Homo sapiens: one gene and its partners. The protein of the gene in region 4 purifies or fractionates together with the protein of the main gene of each other region. This does not show direct contact. Each region holds a gene or a part of one and is shown on either strand. Other genes may lie near its edges.

What was found.
Region 1: the proteins of ARL15 (region 4) and FBXO10 purify together in Homo sapiens (affinity purification with mass spectrometry; 2 studies listed by BioGRID and IntAct, with this or other methods). This does not show direct contact.
Region 2: the proteins of ARL15 (region 4) and CNNM4 purify together in Homo sapiens (co-immunoprecipitation; 3 studies listed by BioGRID and IntAct, with this or other methods). This does not show direct contact.
Region 3: the proteins of ARL15 (region 4) and LONRF2 purify together in Homo sapiens (affinity purification with mass spectrometry; 2 studies listed by BioGRID and IntAct, with this or other methods). This does not show direct contact.

The regions. Positions count from the first base shown.
Region 1 is NC_000009.12:37,517,381-37,520,880, forward strand, and holds part of FBXO10 (F-box only protein 10), read right to left. Parts: intron 1,059-3,500; coding exon 745-1,058; intron 1-744. UniProt on the Homo sapiens protein: Substrate-recognition component of the SCF (SKP1-CUL1-F-box protein)-type E3 ubiquitin ligase complex. Mediates the ubiquitination and degradation of BCL2, an antiapoptotic protein, thereby playing a role in apoptosis by controlling the stability of BCL2.
Region 2 is NC_000002.12:96,791,902-96,795,401, forward strand, and holds part of CNNM4 (metal transporter CNNM4 precursor), read left to right. Parts: intron 1-3,500. UniProt on the Homo sapiens protein: Probable metal transporter. The interaction with the metal ion chaperone COX11 suggests that it may play a role in sensory neuron functions. May play a role in biomineralization and retinal function.
Region 3 is NC_000002.12:100,284,502-100,288,001, reverse strand, and holds part of LONRF2 (LON peptidase N-terminal domain and RING finger protein 2), read left to right. Parts: intron 1-938; coding exon 939-1,088; intron 1,089-3,500.
Region 4 is NC_000005.10:53,883,442-53,887,573, reverse strand, and holds the end of ARL15 (ADP-ribosylation factor-like protein 15), read left to right. Parts: intron 1-860; coding exon 861-1,013; 3' UTR 1,014-3,632; downstream 3,633-4,132.

The DNA of each region.
Region 1 (3,500 bases), on a different chromosome or scaffold from region 4:
CTTGGGATCGTAATTCCATAAGGGCAGGAACAAGATCTGTTTGGCTCCACAGTGAAACGGAGCTCTGCATAGAAAGGTGCTCAGAGCTCAGTCCGGTGGGGAGACAAATAGGTGAAGGAAGAGATACCAAGCCCTGTGGGGAGTGCTCTGTGAGGACCAAGCCCTGTGGGGAGTGCTCTGTGAGGTATGTGTGGACAAAAGCACTAGACAAGAGATAACTCAAACAGCCTGGGGTGGGAGGTGGGAGCTCAGGGACTCTTCCTGAACAAAGATACAGCTAAGCTGCAGGACTGCAGTGCAAGGCGGGCAGGAGGTATGCAGGGTATATAGGGAAGAGTGTATGCAAAGGCCCCAAGGCAGGATCTCTCTCTTCATGAAGCATCTACTGTACAGCAGGCACTGTGCATGATTATTCTGTTAAGGAAAGAGAGCTGAAATAGTCCTGACCTTGACCCGGAGACCATGAAGATAACTCGGGAGGCTCCCAACACCATGACAAGGAGGGGACACCCCATCCCTGGCTTCCTGCTGGTGAGCCCTTGTTCATCCTTCAGGACTCAGCTTCTCCGTCCCCCCCTGTGGGAAGTCCCACCCACATTTCCCAGGCTGAGTCCTGGCAGGAGGGATACTGTCCCTTGTAGTGCTGAGTGATTACGGTTCTGTTCTCAGCAGAGGCCACGAGGACTATCCCAGGGTTGTGCCCTGTGTGGGCACCACACGTCACACACATGCAGACATACTCACTTTAGTGTCGGACCTGGGCAGCAGCTGCAGCCCGCTGCCCCGGTTGCCAATGATATCGTTTTCAATGACGATGGTGCTGTCGCCCTTGGTGATAATGCCGTGGCCTCTGTTGTCATAGATACCATTGCCCCGGAGCTCCACTTTGCACTGGGCCTCAACCTTGACCCCACTTTGCCGGTTGCAGGAGATGCTGTTGTTGGCCACTCGGGTGGGTTGGCTGCTCTGGGCCACAGTAATGCCTCTGTCCCCATTCGCGTGGATCACATTGGTGATGACATGCAGTGCCTCGCTGCTCTGGACATAGAGTCCTGAGGCTATGGGTGGAAGGGTTGGAAAGCACAGGGGGTCCCAGGGTCAGCCCTGACACCACCAGTCAGGAAAAGCCTTCCCTGAATTGTGCACTCCGGGAGAACGGAGTGGAGAAGAAGAGGTACCAACACTCAGAAACAACCCTTGAGTTTGCGTCTTCCAAGCTGATGAAACAGCAGGAGGAAATCCAGGTGCGTCAACAAAACTCTGGTTCTTCTGCATGAAGTCCTTATTCAGTGTAGCCAGGGAAACACCATGTGAGAAGGCTCCTCTGGCCTGAGCTCCCACCGTGTGCTTGAATGCCTCCTGCACCACCGCCATCCTACTGCCGCTTACACCTCCCTGACGGGGTGCTCACTGCCGCCTCAAGGCTGCTCACTCCCCCTCTGGACAGGCAGATCTACTCATTAGAGGGTTTTGCTTTGCTCTCCTTCCTACACTAACCTGGAATCTGCCTCCCTACTGTTTGGGGAAATTTTCTTTTTTTTTTTTTTGAGACGGAGTCTCGCTCTGTCGCCCAGGTTGGAGTGCGGTGGCGCCATCTCGGCTCACTACAAGCTCCGCCTCCCGGGTTCACACCATTCTTCTGCCTCAGCCTCCTGAGTGGCTGGGACTACAGGCACCCGCCACCACGCCCGGCTAATTTTTTGTATTTTTAGTAGAGACATGGTTTCACCGTGTTAGCCAGGATGGTCTCGATCTCCTGACCTCGTGATCCACCTGCCTCGGCCTCCCAAAGTGCTGGGATTACAGGCGTGAGCCACCATGCCTGGCCGGAAATTTTCTTCTTAATGTAAGTTCTGTAATTTTGGAGTACAAAAACTTACTAAGCGAGTAATATGTGTCAAAAATGTGTTTGAAATTTGGGAAAGGAAAACTGACGCTTGCGGTTGTGTGTACTTAGAGACACTAGGTACATGAGGAGAAAAACCCCAAGTCAGCAGGATTAGAGCTCCATGGCTTGTCAGGAAAAGAAAGCAGGGCAGCCAGACCCGGGGGCGAGGAGAGGAGGGCTCTGCGGTAGGTCCCTCTGCCCACCAACAGCAACAAGGGTTGGGGCAGTGCTGGGGGAGGTTGTGTGCAGGACAATGACTGGGGCCCTGCAGCAGTGTCTGGAGCCATGAGCCTGCAAGCTCAAATCTCTTGGTGGCACCAGCCTGTTGCTTCTCCTGGCTTGGTTGAGAACAACAAAAATAAGTATTTGTGAACGTAGGTGGCTTTGCCTGTCGTACCGGACAGACAGCATGGCCACATGGAGGAACCTCTGACCTGGGAGGAGACAGAACTCATTTTCTGAATAAGTGGGTTGGGGCTGCTGGTTATCCATCTCCCTGTCCTCTACCACTACCAGAAGCAAGTGCTTACCAGGCCCAGGAATCTCTTTTAATTTTATTTTGTTTTAGAGACAGGGTCTTGCTCTATTGCCCAGGCAGTAGTGCAGTGGCACCATCATAGCTCACTGCAACCTCGAACTCTGAGTCCTGAGCTCAAGCATCCTCCTACTTCAGCCTCCCTAGTAGTTGGAACTACAGGCATGTACCACCATGCCCAGCTAATCTGAAAAAAATTTTTTTTTTCTCAGTAGAGATTGAGGTCTCTCTATGTTGCCTAGTCTGGTCTTGAACTCCTAAACTCAAGCGATCCTCCTGCCTTGGCCTCTCAAAGTGTTAGGGTTACAGGTGTGAGCCACTGCGCCTGGCCCAGGAATCTGTTCTGAATAAGCCTTCCTCCATTTCCCGACCCACCCATCCATCCTACCCTCCCACCCCCACCCCACAGTGATTTTGATAATCAGGAGGCTTTGGGAGCCCTGGAGTTAGGTGAACTACACAGTAATTATTTTTTTTTAATTCAAGAAATATCAAACATCTTCTACCATCTTTTTTTTTTTTTTTTTTTTCCTTTTAAGACAGGGTCTTGCTCCTGTCACTCCTGAGCTCTGAGCACCTAGAATACCGTGGTGCAATCACACCTCACTGCAGCCTTGAACTCCTGGGCTCAAGCGATCCCCCCGCCTCCTGAGTAGCTGGGACCACAGGCACATGCCACCAGATCCAACTAATTTTTCTTTCTCTACTCCTTCTTCTTCTTTTTTTTTTTTTTTTTTTTTTGTAGAAACCAAGTCTTGTTATGTTGCCCAGGCGGGTCTTGAACACCTGGCCTCAAGCAATCCCCCAGTCTTGGCCTCCCAAAGTCCTGGGATTACAGGCTTGATCCCTGGCACCTGGCCTCCATTTTTCATCAGGTTTAGGATAACATGGATTTAAAACACTTTTATTTTCTGCCTCTCTAAGAAGGAAAACTCACTGCCAATTAAACCATGATATGCATCTCGTGGGAGATGTTGAATTTTGAGAAATGTATCCTAGAGTTGATTAAAAGCATGTGTGCCAGAGGTGGGATTTGGTACTGCAGGGACAGGGGCACTGAGCTGGGTGGGCTTCAGT
Region 2 (3,500 bases), on a different chromosome or scaffold from region 4:
GGAGTCACTCGCTCTGTTGCCCAGGCTGGAGTGCAGTGGCATGATCTTGCCTCACTACAACCTCCACCTCCTGGGTTCAAGCAATTCTGCGCCTGAAATCTCAGCACTTTGGGAGGCCGAGGTGGGCTGAACACTTGAGATCAGGAGCAGGAGAGTAGCCTGGCCAACATGGTGAAACCCCATCTCTACTAAAAATACAAAAAATTAGCCGAGTGTGGTGGCAGGTGCCTGTAATCAGGCAGACTGAGGTGGGAGAATCACTGGAACCTGTGAGGTGGAGATTGCAGTGAGCTGAGATCACGCCACTGCACTCCAGCCTGGGTGACAGAGTGAGACTCCAGCTCAAAAAAAAAAAAAAAACCACACACACACAAAAATACAATTTTATTAGAATTTATACAATGAGAATCCTAAATATAAGCCCTAAATTGATCTGCTTATTTTAGATGTTAAATCAGTTAGCAATAATTTCCGAAGTATAGAAACTTCTAAATTAGTAAAATCTAAAATAATTCTTTCCATCTTCGGCCTCCCTTCCCCTTCCCCGCTCCCCTTCCCCTCACTGGTTACTTTTCTCCTCCTGCTAAATGGATGTAGAGGCACAAAGAAAGACAGGAGGGACTGGTCACGGTGGCTCACACCTGTAATCCCAGCACTCTGGGAGGCCGAGGAGGGTGGATCACCTGAGGTCAGGAGTTCGTGACCAGCCTGACCAACATGGTGAAACCCCATCTCTACTAAAAATACAAAAAATTAGCTGGGTGTGGTGGCGGGCGCCTGTAATCCCAGCTACTTGGCAGGCTGAGGCAGGAGAATCCCTTGAACCTGCTAGGTGGAGGTTGCAGTGAGCTGAGATCGCGCCACTGTACTCCAGCCTGGCGACAGAGCAAGACTACATCTCAAAAAAAAAAGAGAGGAGGTCAGGCTCACCGTCCCATGGGCCTGATAACTGGGACAGAGCTGCCCTAAAGGGAGACAGGAGTGTTGGGGGGATGGGCATGAGCTGGGTTTTGGCTGCGTTAATTTCAAGGTATTAGTGACGTCAGGCAGCACTTGGATAGAGGAATCTGGAGGGCACGGGAGAGGACAGGGCTGCAGAGATTTATTTGGGACACTTGTACACTTGTATTTAAAGTTGCTAGGCAAGGGACCAGGTGTACAGACTGAGTTCTGAGTCTCTCCAGCATTTAAGTGGTCAGGGAGAAGCAGTGACTCCTGAGGTCAGGAGCACTGGGAGGGCTGTGCCCTGGAAGCCCTGGGCAGAAAGGGCTTCCAGGGGAAAGGAGGGAGTCACCGTTGGTCAGCAGGTCATCTGAGAATAACACTCCACCATGAAAGGTCATTGGTGACCTTGACCAGAGGCTCTCTGGCCCGGGGAGGGGAAAATTCTACCAGGACAAAAAGATGTCCCCTCTGGACAGACAAATTAGAAAATAGGAAAAACAGCCCAGGGGCCCAAAGCTCACCCTGCAGAGGGTGACTGACTGGCCCCTTAGGCTGGAACCTCTGTACGGAACCCCAGTTGGCCAGCCATCAGGCAGTGCCCAAAGCTCAGCTTGCAGAGGAGGGGTGAACGTGTACATGGTGCTCAGGGCTGTACACCTACAAGGTGCCTGTCATGCAGCTGGCTGCCACCCGAGGGTGCACACACACAGCAGTGGATCCCGCCAAGGGGTCTCAGAGAGGAGGCGGGGGGCGGAGAATGGTATCAAGACCCTGCTCAGGGAATCAGCTCATTTCATCCGCAGGAGGGCTGTTTCCACTATAAGAGAGGCTGCCAGGCCGGGCGCGGTGGCTGACATCTGTAATCCCAGCACCCTGGGAGGCCAAGGCAGAATGATCACTTGAGGTCAGGAGTTCGAGACCAGCCTGGCCAACCTGGCGAAACCCCGTCTCTACTAAAAATGCAAAATTAGCTGGGTATGGTGGCGCACACCCAGCTACTCAGGAGGCTGAGGCAGGAGAATCGCTTGAACCTGGGAGGTGAAGGTTGCAGTGAGCTGAGATTGTACCACTGTACTCCAGCCTGGGCCACTCCAGCCTAGGCTACACAGTGAGAGTCTGTCTCAAAAAAAATAAAAACAGAGAGAGGCCAGCAGCCTTTCACTGTGAGGGAACCTTTCGTTGGTCAGGATTTGGTCTGAGCCTGTGGAGTAATTAGGGATGTGAATGTAGTGGAGAGGTTGTTTTCTGACTTTGGGGGTCTGAACAAGGTTCTGCTCACTGAACCTTGTCAAAGAACACACCCCCATTCCCTGGGGCTCGATCTGTGGCAGTAAAAAGCACAGAGGGCCCTTGTCCACCCTAGAGACTCTCACCAGTTTCCCTTTGTTCTCCTTAATTTTGTTTTCCCCCTTAATTTTGTCTCAGTTTTGTTTTTAAATTATAAAAGTAAAACATGCCCATCAAATATAACAGTATAGAAGGGTATATAGAGAGGCAAAATAGCCTCCTCCCCAAACTCCAAATACCCCCAAAGGTGACCACTCTTACTACTTCTGGACGCTTCCAGGGCAGTTCAAGCCCACACACGCCTTTGTTTCTGTGAAGGCAGATGGCTCCATGCATTCTGTTCCGTGACTTGCTCTTTCACTAATAGCGTATCTTGGATTTCGTTCCGCGCTTTATTCATCCACCTCTGCCGTGTTCTCCCTTGAGTAGCTGTGGCCCCTTTTGAGTCCCTGTGCCCTATTGCTATTGCTTTAGGTTGTTTCTGGTTTGGGGCTGTTAAAAAGAATGTTGCCAAGAGCCCCCTTCTCTTGTGTCTTTTGTGAAGGTTGCCTCTCCCTAGGGTGAGTTCCTAGAAGTGGACCTTCTAAGTCCAAGGTTAGGAACCCTTGATTTTGTGACATCCTGACCAACTGGCCCCCTGAAATGTACCCTTTTACCTGGCCACCAACCAGATACATGTGAGGGCCTGTTTGTCTTCCCCATCCTCCACCATAACTGGGCATTACCAGGCTTTTTAGAGGGTGCCCATCTGGAAGGGGGTACAGGTTGGGCATCCCGAATCCAAAAATCCAAAATCCCAAATGCTCCAAAATCCAAAACTTTTTGAGTACCAACATGATGCTCAAAAGAAATGCTCATTGGAGCATTTTGTAGTTCAGATTTTCAGATTTGGGATGCCCAATGGCGTGTATTCTGCAAATATTCCAAAATCCAAAAAAATCTGAAATCTGAAACACTTCTGATCCCCAGTGAGGAATAAGGGATACTCAGCCTGTCAAAGCTGCCTTGCTTTAATTCCCATCCCCATGTGGTGACATGGTTTAGCTAGATGCCCAGGCCCTTCCAGGCACTGTCTTTCTGGAGGGCACTCCTGTATGGACAGCCTCCAGCAGGCACAGAGGCCTGGGGGCGGACCCCAGGGTCCCGGCCTGGCCCGCTGCCGCCCTGCTGGAGGGCCTCACAGATCTCTTGAACTTGTTGGCTCATCTCTAGGAAGATACTGGGGTATTTTCAATCGAGTCCAGCCATGGCTTTGTCTAGCAAGACGC
Region 3 (3,500 bases), on a different chromosome or scaffold from region 4:
TTGATTTGTATAAATCAAATTGAGGGTGGTATATGCATTATATTATAATTTCTCAGCACACCGTAGTTTTTGTAGGTACTGGAATTTTGTAACAGGAAAGGACCTTCATGGTTTATTCCTATTATGCAGATGAGAAAACTCTGCCCTAACGAGGCTGTGAGACTGGCTAGATTCACACATGAGAGTTGGTGATGAAGCCAGACCAAACCCTGGCCCCGTGATTCCCAGTCCCATGCTCTTCCTCCTCTACCAGGTGTTCCTGAACAGGACTGAGGCGTAATTTAAATGACAGATGTGATAGTGACATAGGGACCAGAGGCCAAGCTTGGTCAGTCTAAGGTGCTGTGGCCGACCACAAGCTGGAGTCCATCAGCCCAGGCCAATGTAATGAGTGTAGTCTTGCCCTGTCGTGCCTTTAGGAATATAGTTTGGTGATATGGAATACAATTTTTAAAATGTCACCCTTTGACTTGGTAATTCTGTCAAGGTCTCTAGGAAACTACACTGAGGAAACCATACCTCCCTCCCTTGTCAAAAAAGCAAAACAAAACAAAACAACTTTTCCATAAATGTTTATATTATTGTGTTATTTTTAAAAATAAAAAAGCTAGAATATTCTAAATAACTTACGTGAATAGTTAAGTAAATTGGCATGTATCTCAAATATATAATTGCATGCAGCCATTGAACATTATTCAAAATTACAGGAAATGTGCTTATATTATGGTATTAAGAGAAAAATCAGGATACAATTGATAGATTTCAACTATGCAAAAAATGCAGATTTCTATATTGAGCATGTACCATTTTTGTGAAACTGATGAATTATTAAAATGCTAACTGCCACAAATCCACTTAGTGGAGGTGCAGAGGTCGCTGACTGTGTTACGTGCATTACTGTGAATGGTTCACACAGCTGTGCCTCTTTCCCTGATCAGGTGGAGGGTCCAGAGTATGAAGAACTTGCCGCTCTCCACGATTCTGTGCATCAACAGTCTGTTTCCTGGTTCGCGTCTCTCCAGGATCGCATGAAAGAACAAATTTTAAGTCATTTTGGGGTAATGCCAGACAGAGAACCTGAGCCTCAGGTATGCCCTCCCTTTTTCCTTTATAATTCTGTTACTTCCTGCTGTAGTGTGCTGAGCCATCATTCTGGTGGAGAGCTTGGCAGTATGATGCTGGTTACCCCAATGTGGTTGCTTATGAACCAGTTCATCTACTAACAGCCCAAAGGAGCACCTACTGTGGTAGCACATGACTTGTGAAGCAAAACAACAAAGGCTCTCTAACAGAACATAATTTCTTTTCTAACAACAATCAGTTTATTCTGCTTGGCTGTCAGCTTTTGTAGCCTTTTGCTTCTTTCACTCACATCTTAAAATTTAAGTAGTAACTTTATTGTATTGGCATGAACATTCCACGTTTGGCGCATAGCATTGCCTTGCACCTGGTATAGAGATGTTGAATAAGTGAAGAGAAAAATCCCATCATTCTTGTGACATTAGTAGCGTGACTTCCTTGTCCTCTAAGTACCCTGCTGCCCAGCTGTCATGGGCTTTCTCTGGTGCTCCCTACAAGTACTTTTGGTGAAGCTGGTTCTTTAAGCAATGAATGAGCTTAGGTTTGTGGAGCATTTCTAAGCTCAGGTGGGCCTCTCCTCTGCATTAGATGGGAGAGCCAGGCTGGGCTGGTTTAAGATTGTGCCTGAGAGTGTATACCTCCCACCTGTACATGGATGCTCAGCTGTCAAAGACAGTAGGGGAGGGGGATTGGCTCTCAGCTGGTTTAGGGTGATGTGAAAGGTCTTTTCCCATCCATTTTAACTTTTTTTTTCTGTCTCTTGGAGCTTCTATCTTTTACCCCCTGCCTGAATTCTTTTTTTTTCCAAACACAGAAAAATGCTTTAACTGCCAGAAATTGCCATTAAGTCCTTCCTGGCTTGCCCTTTTTGCATAAGCCTTTGTTCTGCAGTATCCTGGAACTCAGATTCAGAAAGCATGGTGGTTACACTGACTTGCATTAGGATATGAGTCATTCTTTTTCCTAGGAGTTGTTGTTTATTAACCAAATTAATCAATCTCTACTTGGCGGGTATATTAGCTTCCTACTACTGCTGTTAAGAAATTTCACGAACGTGGTGGCTTAAAACAACACATATGTATTATCTTTCACTCCTGGTTCTGCAGGCCAGACTATGATCAGGGTGATGGCAGCATGCGTTTCTCTTTGGAGGTTGTGGGGGAGAGTCTGTTTCCTTGTCTCTGCAGCTTGTAGAGGCTGGCGGCATTCCTCGGCTTCCTTCCTCCATCAGAGCCAGCAATGTTGCTTCTCTCCGACCGTTCTTCCAAAGCCACATGTCCCTCTGACCACAGCCCAGACAGGACCCTATATGAACACATTGGGCCCATCAGGATAATCCCCCCATCCCAAAGTCCTTAACTGAATCACATCCTCCAATTCCCTCTGCCATATAAGGTACCATATGGGGGACCATTTTTCTCATGACTACAGAGGGATTTTAGGTAATACATCAATTTTTATATGAGGTCCTTCCCATTAAGCGTGCTACTCAGTTTTTTTCTTTCTCTGTGAGATGAGGCAGGGAAAAGAGTGTGAATCTGTATAAAAGGTTGTTTTCTCCATCTGTGCCTTTCTACCTCTGAAGGGCAGGTTGATGTCTTCCTCACAGTGACTTGGGCTACCCCTGGTGAGCTTTGGCCACAGTGCTATTCCTAGTCCTCCAGCATAATCTACCTCACCCTAAACTAAGGTGACTCCAGAGTTCACCCTCCCAGCTCTTATCGGCATCCTGCACATTTTTGGAGAAGGAATAGAGTGAAGAATCCTAGACCCTGGAAACAAAAAGGCCTGGATATCTTGGTTCCAGTACTAAGAATATTGAGAACGAGTTTATGATCGGCTTTTGCCTAGCACTTAGTCTAGAAGTGCTTTGTTTGATTATGTGAAATAAAGGTTATTTGGTGGCATAATAATTCTTATATATATAATTTATGATAACTCTTGCATATGACATGCATACATATATATGTTTCATACATACACTCATTTGCCACATTGAGTATGTCACTCAAACTTGTACACATACTTTTAGCCTTTATAATATTATGCTTTATATGGCATGCTTAAGACATAAAAAATAATAGCACAGAACATTGGAAAGTGAAGGTTAAAGTGATAGTATTCTCCTCTGACTGGTATATACTCTTAACTGAAAGCTTGAGAGAACAGAAGCAACTAATTCATAGAATCTCCCCATGGAAGATGCTTCTCTTTGCAGGCTCTTCCTTTTGTGAGTTCCCCCACCTTTAAATGTGTACCATAAAAGTAAACTATGTATTTTGAGAGCTGAATGAATTGTGAATTAGCCCTAAAATACAAGGTGGCATTTAATTCTTGCTCACGTGTCTGTTGGTGGAGCAAAAGACTGTGTTGGGGAACAGGCTTGCATTTCCAGTGTTAACCTTGCTTTCCCCTCATCT
Region 4 (4,132 bases):
TTGAGAGAAGATCATCAATACTTCTAGAAGCCATAATAATTTGCTATTTATTCACAGCCAGGAATTGGTAATACTAAATGCCGTTAGTCAGTATGCTGGCCAATATAGTAAGAGTGACTTGTGACTGGTTATTAATTGAACAGGTTTTTCAGCACATACCTATTATAAGTTCTTGCTTTTTCCATCCTAGAAAATTCAGGACTGAAAAAGAAAAAAAAAGGTAGAAGATTTTACGCATATATGTAAATTTATGTAAGTGTGTATATGCATACAAACATACATACATGCAGTTTCTATCCTCTTTCCTAGAAAACACGCTCTCATGTCTCAGAAGCAGATACTAGAAATTTGAGAGAGAAAGAGAAGAAGATTATTTAAATTAGATTTTTGTTGTGTTATGTGCTTGATGGTCAAAATAATTGAGTCTTGAGTAATCAATATAGTACCTACTGTAAGTCGTCACCCATTTAATAAGTTGGCAAGGTGAGATAGTGAAAGCTACTCTGCTAATTATTTTGATGAAATCGAATCTTTTGGTGTCTGCAATGTATCTTGACTGGTGCCATAGTGCAAATAATTTTTTCTCTGACTTCATCAGACCTCCCACGCTGCTAAATGTATGGGTGGAATGGTGGCTTGCACGCAGATCATTCACCTCTAAAGAAAACACTCCCAGGTCACAATATATAACCCACATTATAACAACAGCTGCGGACAGGCATCCACATTGCAAAGTTGTAGGCATCACAGTTCGTATAAATTCCGCCTCGAAATTCCCCTACTTTATCCCTCAGAATTTTGATATGAGAAAGTTTCTGATATAATTAATAACCTATTTATCTTTATTTTTTCCTCTTAAGATCAAAAAATATTTTGAACTTGAACCACTTGCACGTGGAAAACGCTGGATTCTACAGCCCTGCTCACTGGATGACATGGATGCACTGAAAGACAGCTTCTCTCAGCTGATTAATTTGTTAGAAGAAAAAGACCATGAAGCTGTAAGAATGTGAAATCTGGCAAAGAAAACAGGCTCCCAAAAGGCCTTGAACCTATCATGTTAGTTTCTCATTTTAATTTTATTTTGGTATCAAGACTATATTGGCTTCAGTATCTATTTTCCTCTGGTCATTTCAGACTCTCATCTCTCTATTAAAGTGAATATTCTGTAGATCAGATGAATTATCATCGGCATTAACGTCAAGTACACACTACTGAGAGAGAATTTATTCTCTGTTTACCACTAATTATCTTCCCCGCATGTCTCTTCCTTCTGTTGTTCTAAGCATCTCTTCTATACTCTGTGCTGAAACGGATGGAATTCATGGCTTATGGAAATCAAATCCCTTTTGAAGGACTCAGAAAGACTCACAAGACCTTGATCATTTTCTCTGGGTTTGGGAGTGGAGTATTATGTGACTGGGACTCCACAAAATATTTATATTATTTTCAAGACCTATTGGGGGTTTTGTTTTATTTTATCTAATTTTTTTTTTTTTTTGGTATACTGAGCTTATAGACTATGAGAGAAAAGTGAGCACCAAAAACTTCATTAATCACCTTATCAGGAAGGAATATCCTGCCATAGTAAAATTGGCTCTGAAGAGCTTAGAGGCAAGTTACACAATGTTTTCTTGATTACATCTGAAGTCTCTTCTCTTTTAAGAGCAAAGACATTGTTTCAGTTTCTGAGAGTGGTTAGAGGAAATTTAGGTACAATGCATGCATCACAGACTGTATTTGATTGATTCGAGTCTTCAAATATTGTTTAATGGAATGATGAGCCTGCATAAAGTGAAGCTGCAATGTAACATAGGTATCTTTTTCTAAAAACTTCAAGTGTTTGATTAAAATAGAGAAAATAATTTTTAAAATAATAGATAAAAATTTTAAAAACAGCCAGAAAAAGTATAATTTATACTGGTTAGGGTTTAAGATGGCATGGATTTGACAAAGATAACAAAGACAGAATCATCTATATATTCATTCATTACGTGTTACTGTAGTTTATTGGAATCTGTTAATGCCTTCCTCTAGTAGTTAAAGGTTTATCAGTATTTCTATTATAAACCTCTATTTTCAGGGGTTTCAATGTGCCCTTAAAATTGTGCTGGGGCTGCAGCAAATAAATAATATTGGGACTCATATTCAGTCTTTGGAACTAGTTTTTTTTCCATTTAATTTAAATGACAAAATTGCATAGGGATAAATGTACAGTTTTACTAAGGTTTAGCACCTTTGATCTTTTCTAAATCAGGAAAAAAATCTATGCATATTGAGGTTCACAGATGAAATATTCTTTGGCATACTTTGTAGACTTTGACCACTTAAAATACTAAGTGGCCAAATGATAAAAAAAACTGCTCCCTGCACATGAGTGTAAAAACATGTTTGTAATTTTAAGTAAAATGGACTGATACCCAAATACCACAGACTCACACTATATTACAGAATGATGTAATACCTGGTAATTCTCCAGAAGATAGACTTCAGACCCTTAATGCCATTTAAATGTAGTTTTTGTGGTTTAATCTTATGAGTAGATTGTAATGAAATCATTACCTTTGAAACATCAAACACTTCTTTAAGCTTTTTTTTTTTAATGTCATGAATCAGGAAGGATACATAGTGATTCGTATACAATTTTGTCTGCAGCATTCTTGAATATTTTTAACACTGTGTAATCCCTGAGCAGCACAAAACTTTTATTCCGATGACCAGTTACACAATTCCTGTTTTTATTTTGTCCTGTTGTGCTCATCTTCTATGAAAAATAAATGATTATTAGGCCTTGCTTTCCCTGCAAGTTCATTAAATGTAGAATGTTGTCTTTTTAAGACACCGTGGCTGAGTGCTCCTAAGCCATCTGTTAAATGACTTCCCGTGGTCTGCGTGTGTGTGTTCATGTGTGCGCCAGTGATGGGCCTCTCCTCAAACCCACGACTGTCTGCAGCGTCTCAGCCGTCAGAATGAAAACATTATCAATCAGTACCCAACAACAGCTGTTTTTGACAAGTTTCTGTCTGACGCCTAATGCTTTACAACTGTCAATAAGGCTCCCTCTTTGTCTAGCAGGTCGGAGCTCGCTGTCTTGCTGCTTCCGCGCGGCATCCTGTCCTTGTAACCCTAGAATTTGCCATGTTTTGGAAATCCACGTGGGGGCGGGGTGGGGCCTGAACGGGTGGGGATGGGTGGGTGGGTGGTGGGGTGGGTGGGATGGCTGGGGGTGGGAGTGTAAGTCCCTTTTCCTACTTTCATGTAAAGTGCCACAGGTGTCTTGGTTTGCATATTCAAATATTATATAGGAAAAACAGTCTGTTATGTATTTCTTCACCTAGCTTCTTGTAATATTTATGGACGTTTCCAGTTTTTGTACCTTCTTAGCTAAAGCAGTTGCCTTTTTGTAATGGCAATTAATTTATATGATAAAACTTTGTATCCACTGTAGTTGACAGTATTGGTTGCTAATTAACTGCCATATTGCCCTGTCTTTCTATTAAAAAAATACTGTACCTGTACTTAGAGGCTAACAGATTCATGTGGACATTTACCAGGCAAGACCAACTTGTATTGTCCATGATTTCTACGATTTCCACTATCTTCAAATGAAAAATAAACGCTGAGTAGAACTGGTGTTTTCAGACTAACTCCTTTCAACTTTAGCATTTGGGAGTCCCAGATTTCTGTTTACGTTTGTGTCGCCTGTTTGTCTCCAAAATAAGTTCTGCTGCTCTTGGGTCAAAACAAATGATTAATTCGCATTTCCTTTGAAGCCATTGTGAAAACCTTAAAAGAAAAAAAAAAAAAAAAAAAGCAAGTATCTTTTCCAGTTGGTTTGTCTTCAGCAGCAATTTACTCTTATTGAAGCTGTTCCTTCGGAGTGTGTGAACAGACTCAAGATATTATTATAAAGCATCATCCTTCAATCAAAGGATTATTTTATAATATGTGCTGTGAAATTAACTTGAGTGGCAAAGTTTGGTGCAATGAGTTATTTCATTCAATGGTGATTGATGCTGTTAAGTAATATTTTTAAGTGACTCGAGGAAATACTGTGCATTTACAGATCCATCCTTAAGGATGCAGGTCTAAAAAAAGAGTAAGAAAGAAAAATCAAGTGGTAGATAGATAG